Linked DNA regions of Homo sapiens: region 2 is linked to region 1. The links come from fine-mapping of genetic effects on gene expression. A gene starts in region 1. The other region holds a variant in brackets. All regions are shown on one strand. Distances are between the middles of the regions. Region 1 holds the start of DNASE1 (deoxyribonuclease 1). Region 2 holds the start of SLX4 (SLX4 structure-specific endonuclease subunit).

Evidence for each region. PIP is the estimated chance that this variant, and not a neighbour inherited with it, causes the effect.
Region 2: its variant is fine-mapped to the expression of DNASE1 in whole blood (TOPMed, PIP 0.91).

Annotation. Positions count from the first base shown.
Region 1 is chr16:3,653,336-3,656,236 of GRCh38, reverse strand. It overlaps DNASE1 (deoxyribonuclease 1), which reads right to left and starts at 1,546. Exons shown (of 9, transcript NM_005223.4): 1 at 1,193-1,546; 2 at 717-864; 3 at 300-388; 4 at 52-135. The coding sequence starts at 863. LOC124903631 (a long non-coding RNA gene) reads left to right here. Exons shown (of 2, transcript XR_007064954.1): 2 at 1-2,901. RefSeq lists enhancers at 314-841, 842-1,369.
Region 2 is chr16:3,610,206-3,613,106 of GRCh38, reverse strand. It overlaps SLX4 (SLX4 structure-specific endonuclease subunit), which reads left to right and starts at 1,501. Exons shown (of 15, transcript NM_032444.4): 1 at 1,501-1,547. It also overlaps a transcript of DNASE1 not described here. RefSeq lists an enhancer at 1,184-1,253 and a silencer at 1,294-1,643. The variant G/A (reference allele first, on the strand shown) is at 1,325.

The DNA of each region.
Region 1 (2,901 bases):
TGGGGCCCTCCCAGGTGAGGGAGGGGCTTCCTGGCTTTCTAGACCACCCACCTGTACACGAACAGGTAGCGCTCCTTATAGCTGTTCCGTCCCAGTGGCTCACTGACCACGTAGTGATAGGTGTCTGGTGCATCCCTGGATTGAAGAAACAAAAGGTCCCAGTGGCGGGGGCCATAGGGGACCCCTCTGGCTGCCGATAGCGAGGCTGTGCCCAGGTCCCCACCCTTGGGGCCCAAGTGAAGTGAGGCTGTGCCGTGGACGAGATGTCACCTTCCTATGACCCTGCCACTGTCACCCACTGATTGAGGTTGTCCAGCAGCTTCCCCACGGCAGTCAGGTGGCTGTCTCTGACCTCCTGGACCAGGGCGATGTCATAGCGGCTCAGGATCTGGGGGCAGGGCCACAGTGGTGCTGAGCAGGGCTGGTGCCACCCAGGGACCCTACAGCGCCACAAAGGGAGCCACAGCTGATGCTCGTGGCATTGCTCGGTTTAACCGCAGCCTCATGTTTCTGCCTGGGCTCCTGCTGCCAGCCAGGGACAGCACAGCAGGGATGAGGACCTTGGTCCACAGCCAAGAGCCTGTTCCACCGTGCTGGGAGCAGTGGTGCTCAGTACCCCACACCCGACACCCTGTGGCTCCATAGGGCTGGCCCTGCCCACCAGCCCTAGACTCCAGAGCTCCTCTGCTTTTGGGGGGAGGCTGCCCTGGCCTCACCTGCACAATGTAGCTGACGAGGGTGGCATTGGACATCTTGGTCTCCCCAAATGTCTGGATGTTGAAGGCTGCGATCTTCAGGGACACGGCCCCCTGCAGTAGGGCCGCCAGTGCCAGCAGCGCCCCCAGCAGCTTCATGCCCCTCATCCTGGGAGAGCACAGGGCACAGAGACATAACAGAAGTGAGACGTCATCCCTGCCACAGCACTCCAGCCTTCTGGAGCCCAGCTGGCAGGGGCTGGTGGAGCTCAAGGTCAGGGGGACGCAGGCGGGGGAAACCCTTTCCTACAACGTCCAGAAAGCCAAACAGCTGGCACCACGTAGAGGACCCCGAGTCACTCCTCCATCCACCAGAAAACCCGCCCGGGAGGGACGCTGGAGCCTCCGCCTCACTCGCTGCTGGAGGATGAGACTCTAAGCCTCCCTCCCTGCTCCAAACCGGCCAGTCACCCAGAGGCACTCCACCTGGTGCTCACCTGAGATGATGGTGATGTCCTCAGAGATGACGAGAATGCTGTCAAGAATCTGGAATATCCTTTGATGACAATTTTCTCCTTTTGCTGCTTAAAGAAAAAAAAGTAGTCTATGAAGAAAGGTCTCTGAAGAAGCACTTCAAGGCCCTGGCAGTGCTGCTGGGCTCCGGATCCTGCACAGGCAGTGCGTGTCTGGGAGTTTTAAAAGTTCAGGCAGCTGTGACCTTCCCTGGGGCAAATGTGAGCCGTCACCTGAGAGTGCAGAAAACAATGGCTCTGTGTGGCTTTCCGCATAGGTGGGTTGCTAGCACGTGTTTCTTTCTGTAAGCACAGGTTTCTTGCTGCTGTAAAAACTGCACCTGATAATCACGTTTGCACTTAGTTTTAAAATGTCTGATAACAAGGCCAAAGGTTCCTATCCCGTGTCCCTTGCACGTGTGGTGGCCCCCATCTTCCAGGATAGGGCAGGGATGGGCCAGGTATGTGCGGGAGGGTGGGGCTGGGCTCCAGTCTCCCTGTCTCTTGTCTGGGGGCCCCAAGGTCACTTTGGACAAAGAGGCCAAAGCCACATCCAAAGTTGCAAATGGAGCCCCCTGGTGGCTGACAGCCATGACTGCTCTGTGGCCCAGGACACGCCTGCCTTCCTGATTCATCGCCATCAGGTGCAGGCAACTCTGCAGGAGGCTGGGGAGCTCGGAACAAGCAGTGGTGGGGGCCTGCAGCACCAGCGCCGTGGGGCCAGGACAGGTGGGGCCTGCAAAGCCCACCCCAATTGCCAGCCAAGCAGTGGGGAGCCTTCTTGAGGTAGACAATAGGCTGTGTGTTTAGGCCCAGGGGATCCCGAGTGACCAGGTCACAAGGGCAGGGCAGCAGCTAAAGGCCAGGCCTCAGGTCCAGTAATTTCTTGGTTCTTTTGTTTTGGGTTTTTATTGTTTTTGAGACAGGGTCTCACACTGTGTTGCCAAGGCTGGAGTGCAGTGGCACAATCATGGCTCATTATAGCCTCAACCGCCAGGGCTCAGATAATCCTCCCTCCTCAGCCTCCTGAGTAGCTAAGACTATGGGTACGGCACCATGCCTGGCTAATTTTTAAATTTTTTTGGTAGAGATGGGGTCTTGCTCTTTTGTCCAGACTGGTCTTGAACTCCTGGCTTCAGGCAATCCTCCGGCGTAGCCAGGACCACAGGTGCATGCTACCATGCTCAGTTTTTTTTTTTTTTTTTTTTTTTTTTTTTTTTTTTGAGGCGGAATCTTGCTCTGCTGCCCAGCCTGGAGTGCAGTAATACTATCTCGGCTCACTGCAACCTCTGCTTCCTGGGTTCAAGCAATTCTTCTGCCTCAGCCTCCCGAGTAGCTGGGATTACAGGCACGCACCACCACACCCGGCTAATTTTTGTATTTTTAGTAGAGACAGGGTTTCACCATGTTGGTCACACTGGTCTCAAACTCGTGACCTTGTGATCCGCCTGCCTCGGCCTCCCAAAGTGCTGGGATTACAGGCGTGAGCCATCGCACCCAGCCTATTTTTTAAGTTTCTCACAGACACAAGGTCTCCAAGTCCTGAGCCCAAGCAATCTTCCCGCAAATGCTGGGATTACAAGTGTGAGCCACCGCACCCCGCCACTCATTTCTTGGAATCTTTGACTTTCCATTCGTATTCATTTCCTGAGACTGGTGAAACTACCACAAGTTTGGTTGCTTAAAATAACAGA
Region 2 (2,901 bases), 43 kb after region 1:
TTCGATTTGGGGTTTTAAAACGTTCTGGAATTAGCGACGATGGCTGCAAATCCTGTGAACGTACTGGAAACCACTGAATGTACACTTCTAGTGTGCATTTTATGATACTGTATCTTTTAAAAAACATATTGTCTGCCCTGCAAACTGATTCCTTTACACCTCTCCTGTGTTCATTATTTCAGTGACTGGAGGCACACTACTCTCAGATGTTAAGGCCAGAAACCGGCAAATCGTTAACAACTGCGTCTTGACTATGCTCCATATTTCTCCATTCTTTTCGCTCCACCTCCTAATTCGGGCCGCTCTCACTTTTCATCTAGATTATGTAATAGCCTCCTAATGGGTGTCCTTGCCTCATCTGTTCTCACTGTAATTAGGCCTTTAAAAACAAAATCTTACGCCGGGCGTGGTGGCTCACGCCTGTAATCTCAGCGCTTTGGGAGGCCGAGGCGGGAGGATCTCTTGCGGCCAGGGCTCGAGACCAGCCTGGGCAACATAGTGAGACTCCCCCCCCCGCCCCCACCGCCCGTCTCTACTTAAAAAAAAAAAAAAAAAAAGCCGTGAGCGGTGGCTCACGCCTGTAATCCCACCACTTTGGGAGGCCGAGGCGGGCGGATCACCTGAGGTCAGGAGTTGGAGACCAGCCTGGGCAACAGAGTGAAACCTAGTCTCTACTAAAAACACAAAAATTAGCTGGGCGTGGTGACTGGCGCCTGTAATCCCAGCTACTTGGGAAGGTGAGGCACAAGAACCGCTCGAACCCGGGAGACAGAGGTTGCAGTGAGCCGAGATCGCGCCACTGCACCCCAGCCTGGGCAACAAGAGCAAAACCCCGTCTCAAAAAACAAACAACAAAAAACCTTCAATGGCTCCCGACGACCCCAAGTTGAAGCTCAAACCCTTAATACGATGTGTAAAGTCCCTCAAATACCAAGCCATGGCAAACCTCTGCTACCTTTCCCCCAGGCCCTGGCTGGCTTCACCCTAGCCCTGCGGAAGAGCTCGGGCATCCCCTCCAGGCACCTGAAGCGCGGCAGAATCCCCTCTTCACGTAGCTAACCCTCCCCGACCTCCAGGCCTCGACTCTCACGCCACCCCACCTGAGAGGAAGCTTCTCGGGCCCCCAGGCCAGATTTGGTGCCTCTCCCGGTCCCCCTCACACCGTCCACTCTCCGCTCCACAGGCAGGTATGCCCAGAGGGGGCCGCCGTTGTATCCGCGAACATTTCCTGAGCCAGCTGGGGAGGAACCAGACTTTATCTCACAGCTGCCACAGTGCCTTAAACTCGCCCTAACTCTTTCTCAAAAACTAACAGACTCCACCT[G/A]AAGCAAGCGCCGCTTCCGCCTCGCCCCGCCTCCTGCCGACCGGAAGCGCTGGCCGCCGCGGGCCCGCGCCCGGCGCCGCAGAGGAAGACCGGAAGCGAGGCTGCCGCACCACCGCGCGCGCCCGCTCTGCGCCTGCGCGCAGGCAATGCTCCGCGGGGGCGCGGGCGGCGCATGCGCAGGCGCGCGAGTCTCCGTTAAGAAGGTGCCGCGGCGGCGCCGGAGGTAGGAGGAGCCGGGCTGTGGGGCTGGGAGTCGGCACCCGGGAGGCGGAGGTCCTGTCATTTCGGGCCGTTCTCTCTTTCCTAAGGGAGAAGAGCCTTTCTCGCCCGTCTCCCTCGCTGGCTCCGTGGCCTCGGCAGGCCCGCAGCCCCGACGGAGAGGCAGGAGCCGCACTCGGGTGGAGAGGGGCCGGGGCCCGCCTGGAGGGAGGAGGGTGGCGGATCCGGATCCCCACGGTGGTCTCCGTCCGGGCCAGTCCGGGGATCGGGGTTCTCCGTCTGACTTTAGAGCCGTTAGAGTCTTTGGCAGCCCTTTTCCCAGACGGGGAACCCCTCAGCCCCTTTCCGTAGGTCGCCGGGTTGGGGGAAGCGGGAGGGTCCGCCCCTTACCGATCCATTCATTCATCCCTCGCCTGCTGTGAGCCGTGGGCTGCGGTAGGTACGAAGCAAGGAGGCACAAGTCCCCTTCCCTCTGGAAACCTGCAGGCTTGCAGGATCCGTTATGTCATTCAGTAAATCTTGACTGGGCACCTATAGGAGGAGATAGACTGTTGTGAGGTTCATATCAACAGAGATGCGGAGATCAACACAGTTGTGGAGGTGGAATTTGTTCCAGCCGCTCCCCGCATCCAACAGGATAAAATTCACTTTGCCTAGCCTGACCTTCCAGGCCCTTGTGAGCCAATCCTTTCCTCTCCCCGCAGCGTTTTCTCCTACACCTTTCTCTCTACTCCCATTATACCGAACTCTTTGCAATTCATGAATTCAACAAGTAGTTGTGGAGCACTTATTTCAAGTCAGGCACCAGATCAGCCAAAGAGGTTGCAAAGTAATAGATGGATCTCTACCCTCCTGAAGTGTTGAGCTTAATGGGGGACAGATAATAAGCCGATGAATAAAAACACAAGAGCGGATAGTTTCGAACCACACTTCCTGGGTTTGATCCCAGCCCTGCCACTGTGAAAGCTGTTCCTGAACTGGCTTTAGGCCAGTTCCTCATTCTGCTTGCGCGTGTTTCCTTGCCGTAAAGACAGGATGACAAGAGATTCCACCATATAGGCTTCTTGTAAGGATTAAACGAGTTTGACTTGGAAAGCAATTGGAACAGTGCTTGGCACACAGTAAGCATTCGATAGATATTACCTGTTTCATATGATGATAACCTATGACAGATGCCATTGTGAAAACAGTGGGCGATGATAGGGATTAACGGGGATGGAGACGGTCCATAAAGGATTAGAGGACACTTCTCTAAGGGGAAGACACAGAAGAGAATGCGCCAGCCATACAAAGTAGATTCTAGGTAGGAGTATTTTCAGCTCTGGAAAACAAAATGATTAATTAGATTCCTTGGACAG